Linked DNA regions of Homo sapiens. The protein of the gene in region 1 interacts with the protein of each later gene in a pairwise test. Each region holds a gene or a part of one and is shown on either strand. Other genes may lie near its edges.

Region 1 (7,027 bases):
TTGTTAGCCCATTTCGGGCAGCAACATGCAGAGGTCTAGGGGAAAAAACATGATACATGTACACATATGTGCATGTGCATGCACATACACATACACACCTGGCTGTCAAAGAGCATTTTTGTCAACTTGTGAAGACCAAGAGGTACAAACTCGAGAAACCTAGTCCTAATAACAAAGATGGGGGCAGGGAGAGCAGAACCTCTGTGCAGTGCACTGTCACACCTTGTCAACGTGTAGCTCGGCATCAAGCTCAGCCATAGGTCCCATCGACAGGTCCCTACCTTCACCCAATCCTTTTGTTACTTTTCTTTTCAATGTTTAAAAACATTTTACCATTGAAATTGCATTCCTCCGTTGTTAAGGAATGAGGCTGGTAAAGATACAGACTATACATTAAAAACTGTAAACTGCAGTAGCATAAATTCTAATAGGCTTTGAAAACAGCTTACAAGCATCATGACTAATTTTTGGACCTTCAAGGGATCTGACTAATCCCAGAACGGGCAACAATATTCTAAGATTTTTATCTTTACTAAACCTCAAAATGGAATAGCAAGGGACAATGAGAGACACTGATGTAAGATCTCTGTCAGTCTATCTGGAGGTTGGCTGCTCACATTATTAAAAATTTTGATTCTTTAAGAAACCTTATTGGCTTACAGACACACATAAAGCTTCTTACCTCATTTATTGTTAGTTTCAAGTAACATATTATTACAGTTGATTTCCACAGAATACACAAAATAGTACTACTTTCCTTCAGAAAATTAGGTAGGTGGATTAAGGAAAAAAATACATTATTGTCAATGTTATAATAAAATTTCAGTTCAAAAGCATTTTAAATAATATGGCTTTTAGTTGTGATCATTTTAGAAATGAGTTTTGACAGTTGTAAAACTATTAAAATTGCTTCTATGACTAATGAAACCTATTCCAATAGTCACATGTTTAAAAAAATCCATTTATCATTTTTATAATTATAGGTCACAAAGTTTATACTAGATACTGACAGTACTCACGTTTGCAAGGCTGCGTTGGTTGCATTGATGAGGTTTCTATCTGTTATCTTTTCCAGTATTAACAAGGCACTAGTTTCATGACCCTATAATTGTGGCAGATAAGTTATAAAAACTTGAGCACCATTAAAGATACATTTATACACCCAACAATCTGCAATCCTAGTCCATATATTATGTACAACACCATACATATACCATGAATTTTCCTGGCTAATATCTTAATATTTGCCCAAACACATCTTGGGAGTGAGGGTAGGAGAAGAGGACAAAATTAAGATTAAGGAAAGAGGATAATTATGCTTAGACTTGTGTTCCAAAACTTATTTGGCTTACTGGAGACTTTGATACGCCATGGTGCCTTATAAGTCAATTTTGTTCAAGAAATCTAATACCAGTGATCATTAGAGAGGTTTGGTCCTGAGTTGTTCATTTTAGTGAAGTCAAAAAACTTTTAAGGTCACTGTTAATATTAACAATGGAAACATATTCTTAAGATGTATACATACCTTGCTACAAGCCAAATGGAGGGCAGTATTTTTACTGTTATCTTGTAAAGTCAGTTCTGCACTAGCACTGCTAACCAGCATCTCTGGGAGGAAAAAGTGCATCAATTCTTATGTTTATGAACATGTTTCTTAGATTACCAATAACTCACTGTAGAGAAATGAAGATACAAAGCAAAAAAGTCCCTCTCACAAAAACTTAAGTACAAGAAAAATATTGTAATATATAACATATATATCTTCATATAATTGTATGAGACAATTATATTGTTGTATAAGTCACACACTCTAACAATGGCAATTAACATTTATTTTGTGACTGTGCACTAAATTTTAAATACTGTTTTATATGCTCTGGATTTAAAGTAATTTATTTAACCCTCACAACAACACACCAAGTAGATACTGTTATTTTTCTCATTTTATAAATGAGAAAACTGAGGCATAAGGTCATTTAGCTGAAAGATCTAGGACTCACATTCAGGCAATCCAACTCCACAGCCAGTGTTCTTAACCACTATGTTATAAGGCCATGGTAAAGTAGACTCCTCAATAGTCAGGGCAAACTAAAACATTGTATCCCTAAATGAAAATGTGGATTGCAAACAGGTAAAAGGTTTTAAGTCTTAGGAGTGGTAAGATAACTAGTTGAAGTCAGAAGTCTTGGGATCTAAGTTATACATAAGTGATACACATACTTAGGAAAATACAATTTTAAAGAAGTTTCTTTACCAACTGTATTTGTTTGTCCATTTTCTGCAGCCATCATAAGAGGTGTTTTCCCTGTAGAGTCCACAGAATTGACTTGAGCATTATGGCTGAGCAGCAGCTGTAAACACTCTACATGGTCTGTGAAGGCGGCTGCATGGAGAGGAGTTCTGTGATAAAGAAAAATTGAAATATATGACTAAATTTGAATGTTATATATGCTGGAAAAATATTCTTTAATTTGTGACATGCTGTTTTTAAGGGTTTACATATTAGGCTACAAAAGCACTGCCTGTACACAAACAAATAGGCTCAATGGAGCTTACTAATTTCTCTCATAGAAATTTGTACTTTCAATAATACAGAAGGCTTTAATTAAACTAGAACTAGTATGAAGTAAAGATTAATTACAAAATTGCTAAAATAACATTACATCATTAAAGGAAATTTTGAAAGAAATAAATCCTAATCTGAATACCACCACTTATTACAACTGCTGGACTTTTTTCCAGGCTTTATTCCCATTTAGAAAACTGTTAACTTTGTTAACAATAATCTTTGGGAAACAAATTCGAAAGAGAGGGAAAAATATTTACATGTTAAAATAGTTTAAAGGAGGAAAACTTCCTAAAATCTATAAATAGAAAAACCTTTTATAATGTAAAAATAATTGAGATCTTATAACAATTTATACTCGCAAATATAAAAATCAACTTTTAATAATGGGTTTTCTGTAAATTCTCTCACACCAGCCAGTAGTTAAAATTTATTTCTTATTGAAAATAAAACCTTTTTGGGGGGTAGGGCCCAGACGGGATCTCACTCTGTCACCCAGGCTGGAATGCAGTGGTGCAATCATAGCTCACTGTTGCCTCAAACTCCTGGGCTCAAGTGATCCTCCTGCCTCAGCCTCCTGAACAGCTGGGATCACAGGCATGCATCATCATGCACTTTTTTTTTTTTTGGTAGAGATGCAGGTCTTGCTATGTTGACCAGGCTGGTCTTAAACTCCTGGCTTCAAGTCATCCTCCCACTTCAGCCTCCCAGATTGTTAGGATTATAGGCATGAGCCACTGTGCCTGGCTAAAACTATTTAATACATAGTTGAATTCCTACCTTCCTTTTGAATCTGTGGCGTTCACAATGCTGGCACCTAATGTATCAATTAACATCTCAGCAGCACCTTCGTTGTCATTTATCCTGTGTAAGGTAACAAGGTGATCATTCTCACAGCAATGGTGTATTTCTTAAAACACTCAAACCAAATCTGATTCATTCTGGCTTTACTTACACGGCACAATGCAATGGACTAAAAGCATTTCCTTCCGTTTTCTGGAAAACTTCCTGTTCTAAAAGCAGTTCTACACATGTCTCGTGACCTAAATAGGTGTAAAGAACCAGGTATTAAAATTCAAAGGAGATACTGGCAAAAATCACAGGTACATGTAAGTGTTTAAAGGAAAAATGTAAAAGTCTCTCCCTCATCCCATCTCCCAGATCCCCTCTCTGGAATATAACCATTGGTAGCTGTTAAGCCACCAGTAGTTCCTGAAAATTTCTAGGCATATACAACTGCACGCACAAAATACATACAGTTGGCTCTCTGTATCCGTGGGTTCTGCATCCATCAATTCAACCAACCCCAAATTAAAAATATTTGGGGGAAAAAAAAAACAGAGCAGACTTTTTTTCTTGTCATATACCCTAAATACAGCATACCAATTATTTACATAACATTTACATTACATTGGTTATTATAAGTAATCCAGAGATGATTTAAAGTATAGCAGAGAATGTGCATAGGTTATATGCAAATACTATCCCATTTTCTATAAGGGACTTGAGCGCCTGTTGGTTTTGGTATTCACAAGGGGTCCTGGAAACCAATCCTCAACAGCAAACGAGAAATGACTGTGCTATTTTTTTATTTTTTTCTTAATGGCAATGGGATGTTTAATTCCGCAACTTGCCTTTTACTTAATATTAACTACACATATCCTTCCATAATAGCATATATGAAATATTATTATTATTATTTTAGATGGAGTCTCACTCTGTTGCCCAGCCTGGAGTGCAGTGGCGCGATCTTGGCTCACTGCAACCTCTGCCTCCTGGGTTCAAGTGATTCTCCTGTCTCAGCCTCCCAAGTAGCTGGACTACAGGCGCCCACCACCATGCCCAGCTAGCTTTTTTCGTATTTTTAGTAGACACGGGGTTTCACCATGTTGGTCAGGCTGATCTCAAACTCCTGATCTCAGGTGATCCACCTGCCTCAGTCTCCCAAAGTGCTGGGATTACAGGTGTGAGCCACCATGCCCGGCTAAAATCTTATTCTTTAATGTTCTGAAGAGCTTCACAGTATCAAAGTATATCATAAATTATTTAATCTAATTATGGATTTTAAAGTGATTGCTAGTTTAAAAAAATTCTTCATGATATTATCAACAACGCTGTAATGAAACATTCTGGTATTTTTTTATTTTATTAAAACAATTTTTTGAGACAGGGTCTTGCTCTGTTGCCCAAGTTGAAGTGCAGTGGCATGATCATGACTCTCTGCAGTCTCAACCTCCTGGGCTCAAGTGATCCTCCCACCTCAGCCTCCTGAGTTGCTAAGACAACAGGTGCAAGGCTACCACACCTGGCTAATTTTTTGATATTTTGTAGAGATGAAGTTTTGCCATGTTGCTCAGGCTGGTCTTGAATCCCAGAGCTCAAGTGATCTGCCTGCCTCAGCCTCCTAAAATGCTGGGATTACAGGCATAAGCCACCACGGCCAACATTTTGTTTTTATTTTAGGAAGTATTTTTGTAGGACAATTTCCTACCAAAGTGATATTGCTGTGGTAAAGGAGAAGTATCCAGCCTTGGTATTCTTGGGGGATTGGGTCCAGGACTCCCCACTGACAGCAAAACTCCATAGTCCCTTATACAGGTCCCTTGTACAAAATGGTTTATTTGTGTATAACCTATGCACATCTTCTCATATACTTTAAGTCATCTCTAGATTACTTACAACTTAATTCAATGTAAATGCTATATAAATAGTTGTTGTATTGTTTAGGGAATAATGACAAAAAAAAAGTCTGTACATGTTCAGCCTAACTATATTTCTGATGGACATTCAGTTGAATTCACCGATGGGGGACCCATGGATATGGAGGGCTGACTGTATTGACTGTTCATCAATATCTGGTCCATAGTTTTTAACAGTAACTTCAAAAACAGAAAAATCCAAATTTCAAATTTTCTTACCCTAATTCCAGAGCCAGGGTTTTAATTTAATACCCTAATTACTACAAATAAAATGTTGCTTATTTTATTTCATTAGTCATTTGGGATCTACTTTAGGAATAAGATTCTTACATGGCCTCTTTATACATTTTCATGGTTTAATATTTGCCTACCAAAGTGATGTTATATTTTCTTTTCTTTTTAAATTACTCAAACTTAATCAGCTTAAACTTTACCCTATAATTGTGGAAAAGTAATTTTTAGAAAAACCTGTAATTGTGTTCCATCTTTTGTCAGTTCTTTTCTCTAATCTAGTAGTTTTCAAGTGGATTTTGCCCATCAGCAGATATTGTATGTGGCAATGCCTACAGACATTTTTGTTTATCACAACTGAAGGTGGGGCAGTGCAACTGGCATCTAGTGGGTAGAAACCAATGATGCTGCTAAACATCTTGCAATGCACTGGAGAGTCCCTTGCAACAATCATCTGGCCCAAAACGTCATAGTGCTGAGGTTGAGAAACTCCTTTAATGCCATCGTTCTGAATGTTAACTCATTACTAAGATACAGCAATGGAAAGTTGTCCATTGTTGACTTAAGAGCCCCTCATTCTCCAGGTATATGGGTTCTTAAGGTGTGGCCTAGGGAACCCTGGGGTGACGCAAAAAAAATATGAATAAAAACACAGATGAGAACCCAACTATTCTCTTAAATTAGCTATGAAGAGATGTACTACTCTTCTCACTAAAAAGAAAATACTTTTGGAAAATAGTTTTCATAAAAAAAGATTATTTATGTTAACATGTAATAGACATTATTTTTAAATAAATCAGTAAGTATTTAAAAATTTCTCAATTACAATTTCTAATACAGTCAGTATCAATCCATAGTTCCTGAGACCAAAGGGTTTGAGAACCACTCACCATCTGAGTACAGACTGAGAAAAGGGAACAGTGGGGCCCCTTTGTGACCTCCAGAAATCATTACTGGGTGATATCAAGCAGACAATCTCATAACTTTCTATCATCATTTATGAAAGATAGATAGGATGGTAAACTGGGTCCTCCTGAGTTTCAGAGGCTAGTCTGAGGATGTTTAGAGCTTCATAAAAATGAACACATTTTTTAAAGGAATAATAAGTATTCTTAAGTTCTGTGATTGAATGACTATATAAACTGAAATTGTGAACTTTTAGTATCTACAGCCAGTGTTTTTCTAAAACTTGGCCATCATTTCATTTTAATTTTAAGAGGTTGTTTTCTGTTCTGTTGGCATGCTTCCACTTTTCTTTCCAGCTGTACAATAATTACTAGTTAAAGTAAAAACCATTTTACATATTCTACTTTCAGAATGCCAAATTATAAAACGGGCTTTTGGCTATAAATATGGTATTAATTTTAGGCTGTCTATATAGTCGCTTATTGCATATAGCCAACACACATTAAATTCCTTCCAGCTCAAATTCAGCATCACCACAATTTTGCTACAGGCTGAAAATCAGACACATTTGTTATGATCTTTAAATGGCAACCAGGCATGCAGTTCTTGCAAAATTCTGTCTCTT
Region 2 (7,027 bases), on another chromosome or scaffold:
TGGCTTATTTGATGCCTTTTCAACATGGATCCACTCACTTGAGCCCAGGAGTTCAAGACCAGCCTGAGCAACATAGACCCCACCTCTATATAAAAAAATAAATAAAATAAAAATACAAATGAATCCATGAAAGCAGTTTGTATGTAGAATTTTTAAAAGGCTCTAGGGCCAGGCGCGGTGGCTCACGCCTGTAATCCCAGCACTTTGGGAGGCTGAGGCGGGGGGATCACGAGGTCAGGAGATCGAGACCATTCTGGCTAACACCGTGAAACCCCGTCTCTACTAAAAATACAAAAAATTAGCCGGGCGTAGTGGCGGGCACCTGTAGTCCCAGCTACTTGGGAGGGTGAGGCAGGAGAATGGCGTGAACCTGGGAGGCGGAGCTTGCAGTGAGCTGAGATCATGGCACTGCATTCCAGCTTGGGCGACAGAGCGAGGCTCTGTCTCAAAAAAAATAAACAAATAAAAATAAAAAAATAAAGAAAAAAGGCTCTAAAGATGTTTGCTGTTATTTCTACAACTCGAATGCCGTGGTTTGCAACAAGGGGCAGATGTTTTATTTTGCAATGTCTGGAAACTTTATTTTTTTGATGGAGTTTCACTCTCGTTCCCCAGGCTGGAGTGCAATGGAGCGATCTTGGCTCACTGCAACCTCTGCCTCCTGGGTTCAAGCGATTCTCCCGCCTCAGCCTCCCAAATAGCTGGGATTACAGGCGTGCACCACCACGCCCGGCTAATGTTGTACTTTTAGTAGAGACAGTGTTTTACCATGTTGGTCAGGCTGGTCTCGAACTCCTGAACTAATTTGATCTACCTGCCTCAGCCTCCCAAAGTGTTGGGATTACAGGTGTGAGCCACCATGCCTGGCCTGGAAATCTTTTTGATTGGTTGTCCCAACTGGGGTGGTGGCACTGGCACCTAGTAGGCAGTGTTCAGGGATGCTGCCAAACATCCCTGGATGCACTGGATGGTCCCCACCACAGAGAATAACCCGGTCCGTATTGCTAGTAGTGCTGGGGTCAACCCTGCAGTTGTGTGTTGTGCTCCACTGAAGTTCAGGTGCTGGATACTGAATGAGGAATGAGCACCCGGGTCCAGATCCAGTTCATGTGCTGACTGCTGTGTCACCTGCAGAAAGCCACGTCAGCACCCCGCACCTCAGCACTCGGTGGGTCCATTTTTAACTAGAGATGACAGGCACCTGCTCTCTCACCTGGGGCTCGCAGGGAAGGCAGTGCGCTACTCATATGGGAGCTCCGGCATTTGGACGGCACAGTCTCCTTATTAAATATCTCAGTGACCTTAGTCATATTGTTAGTGAAATGGCAATTAGTTTTTCTAACTTTGGAGGGGGTAATAGATTAAGATTTCTGCACATAATACACAAAGACATTTAATATGGCTCCGTGGCTGCCTCTGAGGCCACGCTTCTCCAGTGGCAGTTCTACTGGTGGCGGAATGATATTTTTTGTTGTTTGGTTTGGTGGTTTGTTTGTTTTTTACCGCAAATTCATTGTCTGGGTTTTTCTCTCCCTTCCGGATTGGCCGAGAATATTCAAATCGCTGGACCTCGTTCACCCTGTAAAAACTGTACAGAGACAGACAGATCATTAGATATTTAACCCGGCAAATAGCCAATTTGCTTTTGGACACGGGGTCTGGCCTTAGAACATGTCACTGCCTCCTGTAAAATGTCCCTAACCTTGACCTGAAGCCATCGCCTTGGTGTCCTCTCCCAGCCAGGGAAATGTTGGCAGGTGGAAAAATTAACTTGAGTTTTTGCCTCTTCCCTGTCCCTGCCAACCCTCGAGGGAAAACAGAAGCTGAGTAAGAGTGAAATGAGCAAAAACAGAGGAAAGGTGAAGCGAAGGAGAGAGAAAAAAGCTTTTGTGTTCAACGTATGTGTTTATTATTATTTTAAAAAAGTATTACATACCTTAGTTTCAGATCTACAAAGCACAGATTTTGCAACCACCCCAAGAGTGACACACAGGAAACATAAGTAACCTGCCTCCGCGGTCGGGGTACGAGGCAGGCTTTCCGCATGCACAGGGCAGGGCGTGGAGAGACTGAGACTGATTTCTCCCCTGCACTGAAATGCAGGCAGGCTTCCACAGCAAAAGAAACTACTGCATCTGAGAAGGCTCTAAGCGTCACTATTTGCTTAAGGCCTCTGAAAAAAAATGTTGCAACCCTTAAAATGTATGCCTTGCGAGAGCAATCATTTGTAAATAAACAGGGTCCCAGTTTATTTCCCATTATTGCTGATGCAAGGTCAAAGAAACGATGAAAGGTTAAAGAAACCACCAAACTTCAGGAAGCAAAATGAAGCTGATCCTAAGGAATATGAGGTCATCAAAGAGATTAATATTTTCACCAGAACATGGATCAAACAGAACAGAAAAGTCTTAATATCAAACACATCTGCTAAAGCAGGTCTTTCTATGCCATTGCTAAGTCAGGTGCGATACAACTGACAGGCAGAAAATCTCACTCAAATATGGACAGTTGACTCAGGAGGTTTAAAAGCCCCCTCATAACCCTACATTATGGAATTGCTGTGCTGTAAGGCTGAAGGGTTCTCCTGTGTGTCACCAGGAGCAAATGTGCAAATCCCATTTCCCGCCTTCTAAAATGCAAACATTCAGGCCACACTCACATGTATGAACTTGGCTTTGCTGGGAACAGGCAGGACTTGTGCACTGCTGTGAAGTTCCCTAGGGGATTGTACCCCACAGGGCAGGTCTATAAAGGAGACCAGACGGCCTCCACTGCCCTCTTAGGTTTTTGCTGTCAGCTGACTTTGGGAAAGGAATAGGCTTTGCACGCTCCCAGCACATGGATTAACATCTCCTGTCACTTTTTTTGGATGCTGAAAATAATTAGCTTCCCTTGCTCTTCAAAGAGGACAGAAAGAGCATTTGGAAAGCGAATCCATGGCCAAAGTCCGTCCTTTAAAAGGTGGAATTATTAGCAAGAGATCTGTACACAGCCTCTTACAACCCTCACGTTGGGTAAGAAAAATGGGATTATTACCTTACAATCTGCTCTGACACTGGCCTGTGAAACTTAGGAGGCAGATCGAGTTTGGGCTTCACTGTGAAGCACTGAATATCTGAGGTGAGGGGGTTAAGGATCACTAAGGCAGCATAGACATCAACCATGAGAGAGGCCCCCCACCACACCCAACCACCCAAATGAATGGCATCACCATGGTTTCAGAGTTGATGAGGTTGTCTTAAAGGATACACTGGCCAGGAGAGTTTTTAATATCGTCGCCTGGTGGAGATGTTGTCTTCATTTTCTCGGCGTTTGGAAACTGAGTTAAGAGCCGAGCCTCAAAATCTTCCCGGCGCTCATACTCTTTCCCTCGGTAAATGAAAACTTTTCCCTGAAAAGGGTGACATTCATTTCATAACACCACAGAGAAAGGGCCAGGAAGAGTTCACATGCAATATGCTGGCCTTAAAATATGCCTTACGGGTTCTTACAAAATGTCATTAAATTTAAGAACAACTTGTAATTTTTATTTTTTTTTGTACTTGCGTTGGCTTTGTTAATCAAGAACACATGGTCATCAAGCATGTAAGTTAATACTGTTTAAGAAGCACTCAGCACTGCGCTACTAACATCTGTGATATGTTTTCATCTTGACAGTAACAACTGATTTAAAAACTATATGAAAAACCAAATGAGCACTCAGAAGCCCACACTAGAATGGGCATGAAATGGTTAGAAGGGGGCAAGGCAGCCAGGACAAGTGGATAATGATGTCCACACTTTTTCTTGTTTTTGTTTTCTTCTCAGGTAGGCCCTAATGAAGTTGTTTTCATTCTGCCATAAGGAATTTAAGAGAGCTTGAGCTAAGGTGGGGCCCCAGCACCTGCACACGGCCGCCGGGCGCTGACTCCTGTGAGACACAGCCGAGGCGAGCAGAACCCGAGGGGAAGGGATGCAGACCAGAGCCGAGAGCTACTAAGTTCCTGGCCTCCCCCGAGTGAGTGACTGGCGATGGACGGAGAGCAGGACTTCCCTTCCTGCATTCAGAATGTGTGTGCAGGTCATTATTCATCAACACATGTCAAGATAAAACATACAGAGCTCTTCTTGGAAGGGCTGGGTTTGGTCCATCTCAAATGACACTTTTGTCACCTCCATAAATTCCAAGATGGAATGTCAGTCCACTGGGGTTGTTATAGACGGCTAGGCTAGACTAGGCAGTCCGGGGCGGGGAGGGGAGTTAAGTAGGTAAGTGTTCTTCCTTCCACGAGGCTGTCTTGTTGAGGTCATTTCTGCCTGAGTGTGACACAGTCCTCTGTAAATATACCTGTAAGGAACGTTTTCCTTGCAAGATACAACAGGTCTCCGTTTTTTTCCCGATTTCAACACGTGTGTTCTGAGTGTGAACTCGGTCACAGAAAGGGGCCAATGAGTACCTAGTGTAATGCTGCTGCTGGTTTTGGAAGCCTTCTGCCTCCCCCCACCCATCCTGTCCCATCTGGGGCTGTCTCAACCGAAATGAAAACTGCCACAAGGAGAAGACAGCGAGCAGAAGCCACAGGGGTACAAGAAACAGAAGTCTGGGGTTGGGGGGGTAACACTTTCCAGGACGGGGCGTGGTTGCTGAGGTGCTTCTGTTCTTTGATCAGGGGACACGGGGGAAGAACCTCCAGGTTGGCTGCTCCCAAGTCAGCTGCAGCCCTGCCCCATCTGCAGTCATTCCTGGACAGGTGCCAGAGAGGGAGACGAACAGAGACAGAGACAGACAGAGAGGACAGCATTTTGCTGCATATTTTTACACTTACCCCCTAAAGACTAAGATTGAAGTCAAATTAAAATTTGTCTAACTAAAGGATTTTCAAAAGGATTAAGAGAGATTCTATGACACTGAATCAATTGATCCCTGCTGTGGTCAGAACGTTTGTAGTCCCCAAAATTCAGATGTTGAAACCTAATCACCAAGGTGATAGTATTAGAAGGTGGGGCCTCTGGAAAGGCTCCACCCTTAGGAAAGTCATCAGTGCCTCAGAAAAGAGGCCCCAGAGAGCTGCCTGCCCTTTCCACCCCATGAGAACAGGTGGAAGGCGCCATCTATGAGGAATGGCCCTCCCCAGACTCCAAATCTGCTGGCACCTTGATCTTGGACTTCCCAGCCTCCGGAACTGTGAACAATACATTCCTGTTGTTTATAAAGTACCCAGTCTAAGGTATTTTGTTACAGCAGCCCCAGTGGACTAAGACAGTCCCCTTCCCTTGCCCCAGCTTATTCTGAGTTCTCCTAAATCGCTAAAAAAAGAACCAGTTTAAGAATTGAATTCTTTTTCACTTTGTGCTTAGATATGTCTTAGAAGTACCATTATGGAAGAAAAATGCTCTATTTCTCCCCACCGCCCCCCCGAAAAAAAAAAGTCAAGCAGAAACCAGATAATATGTCATCTTAAATACAGTCTGAGCAACTTCTAAGGCTTCTATATAAAGCCACGCACTTCCAAAATTCAGTAAGATTTAATGGATAACAGACTACTATCAAACTAGCAAGCATTTTTCTTATGCTTTACATGAGAAAACATAATAATAAAAATGTATATAAAGACTTTAATAGAAAAAAGCTAGTGAGTTATAGGTAAAAACACGAATAACATTTTCTGAAAATGTCAGTTACTTTGCATTCTGAAGTGATCCTTTTGAACATGAAAACAAGGGGGAAATGTACATATAGTCAAAGATATTTATTCCTTGTAAGGTCTATAAATATCAACATGAGCACAAAAAACAGTGAGACCAATTTTTAGAGAAAAACAAAGCAAAAGGGACAGCTAGTCAGTTCTTGGAGGCTCCTCTCCAGCAGGGCATGAAGCACGCAAACATTCTGCCCACGTTTTGGTAACTGCCAGTGTCATTGGCAGATTGACCCCTGCCAGCTCATCTGTGAAGTGTGATAAATATATTGCTGCAGACCCACAGAATGATCCAGGTGTGGCGGGAAAGTCAGTTCAATATTAATCGAGCCTGTTAACCTCCATTCAGACTTTTCATTTTGTCCTTTTGGTGGTGGAGATGACCCAGCACCGCCCCTGGAGCCTGCTGTGTGTGAGCTCCTGGCACAACCTGGCATCTATTGGCTCGGGAGCTGCAACGTGTCCTCCGCACCCGGCACTGCCCTCACATAATATTCCACGCAGGCTGCTCCCTTGCTCTGGATTCTGGGATAACCATCCTGCACGGATCCAGAGTTGGTGCCTACATACCAGAGGTAGATCTCCATCCACAGGGGCCACACGCACCATCTAACACCAAGCACTGCACAAGGCTGCATGGCTTAGGGTCCACCTGCCTCCCTTTCCTAAAGATGTATGTTCCGGAGCACACACACACTCGAATTAAAGCCTTTAGCAACAGTAAGTGGCTTTAACTCCAAGCTCATTCCACCCTTCAGCTTTGTTTTTTATTGAGAATGAAGCTAATTTCAAATTTGTCTCTAATTTAGAGCTTGTAACTAAGCCTCCTTTATTCATTCTTTGGAAGGGAAGACTTTGTTCAGAATCTGTGCTTCTGATCAACCGCTGTCTTTGCTGCACGATGAAGGCAAGAGGAGAAGCTGACCAGCAGTGACCAGGAGTGACCAGGACAGGGCCAGACGCCTCCGTCACCAGGCAGGACACTGAGTGGGCAGCCAGCCTCACCTCCTAGAGCAGGCCAGAACTGTGGTGCTCCCCTGTCAACAGTGACATGCCCTTCCTAAGGGGAGGTCTGTATCCTCTGGGTGCCGTGATGAAGAGATGTCACACTATTAGTGACTCCCGTGGAGTCGGAAACACAGGACCCCAAATGAACAACGTCTGGAACCAGGGGAATCTCCCAACTGGTTTCAACTGCCCCAGACGGCTGTGCTCAAGACACAGAGCTTCTGCTTCCTAAAGCCAGAGCAATCACACATAGTCTCCTAGGATAAGAGAAAACCAAGTGTCCAAAAAAAAAAAAAAAAAGTCATAAGAAATATCAGGAAATCATGACCCACTGGTCAATG

Evidence for each region. The genes of interacting proteins can lie anywhere in the genome.
Region 2: the proteins of ANKRD28 (region 1) and DOCK1 interact in binary tests that used the Homo sapiens proteins (3 or more experiments, as listed by UniProt).

The regions. Positions count from the first base shown.
Region 1 is NC_000003.12:15,675,955-15,682,981, forward strand, and holds part of ANKRD28 (serine/threonine-protein phosphatase 6 regulatory ankyrin repeat subunit A), read right to left. Parts: intron 3,610-7,027; coding exon 3,522-3,609; intron 3,431-3,521; coding exon 3,347-3,430; intron 2,401-3,346; coding exon 2,255-2,400; intron 1,674-2,254; coding exon of another isoform or gene 1,660-1,673; exon of another isoform or gene 1,609-1,659; coding exon 1,526-1,608; intron 1,103-1,525; coding exon 1,020-1,102; coding exon of another isoform or gene 1,016-1,019; intron 36-1,015; coding exon 1-35. UniProt on the Homo sapiens protein: Regulatory subunit of protein phosphatase 6 (PP6) that may be involved in the recognition of phosphoprotein substrates. Involved in the PP6-mediated dephosphorylation of NFKBIE opposing its degradation in response to TNF-alpha.
Region 2 is NC_000010.11:127,405,401-127,412,427, reverse strand, and holds part of DOCK1 (dedicator of cytokinesis protein 1), read right to left. Parts: intron 3,392-7,027; coding exon 3,250-3,391; intron 3,116-3,249; coding exon 3,037-3,115; intron 2,174-3,036; coding exon of another isoform or gene 2,012-2,173; intron 1,589-2,011; coding exon 1,504-1,588; intron 1-1,503. UniProt on the Homo sapiens protein: Involved in cytoskeletal rearrangements required for phagocytosis of apoptotic cells and cell motility. Along with DOCK1, mediates CRK/CRKL regulation of epithelial and endothelial cell spreading and migration on type IV collagen.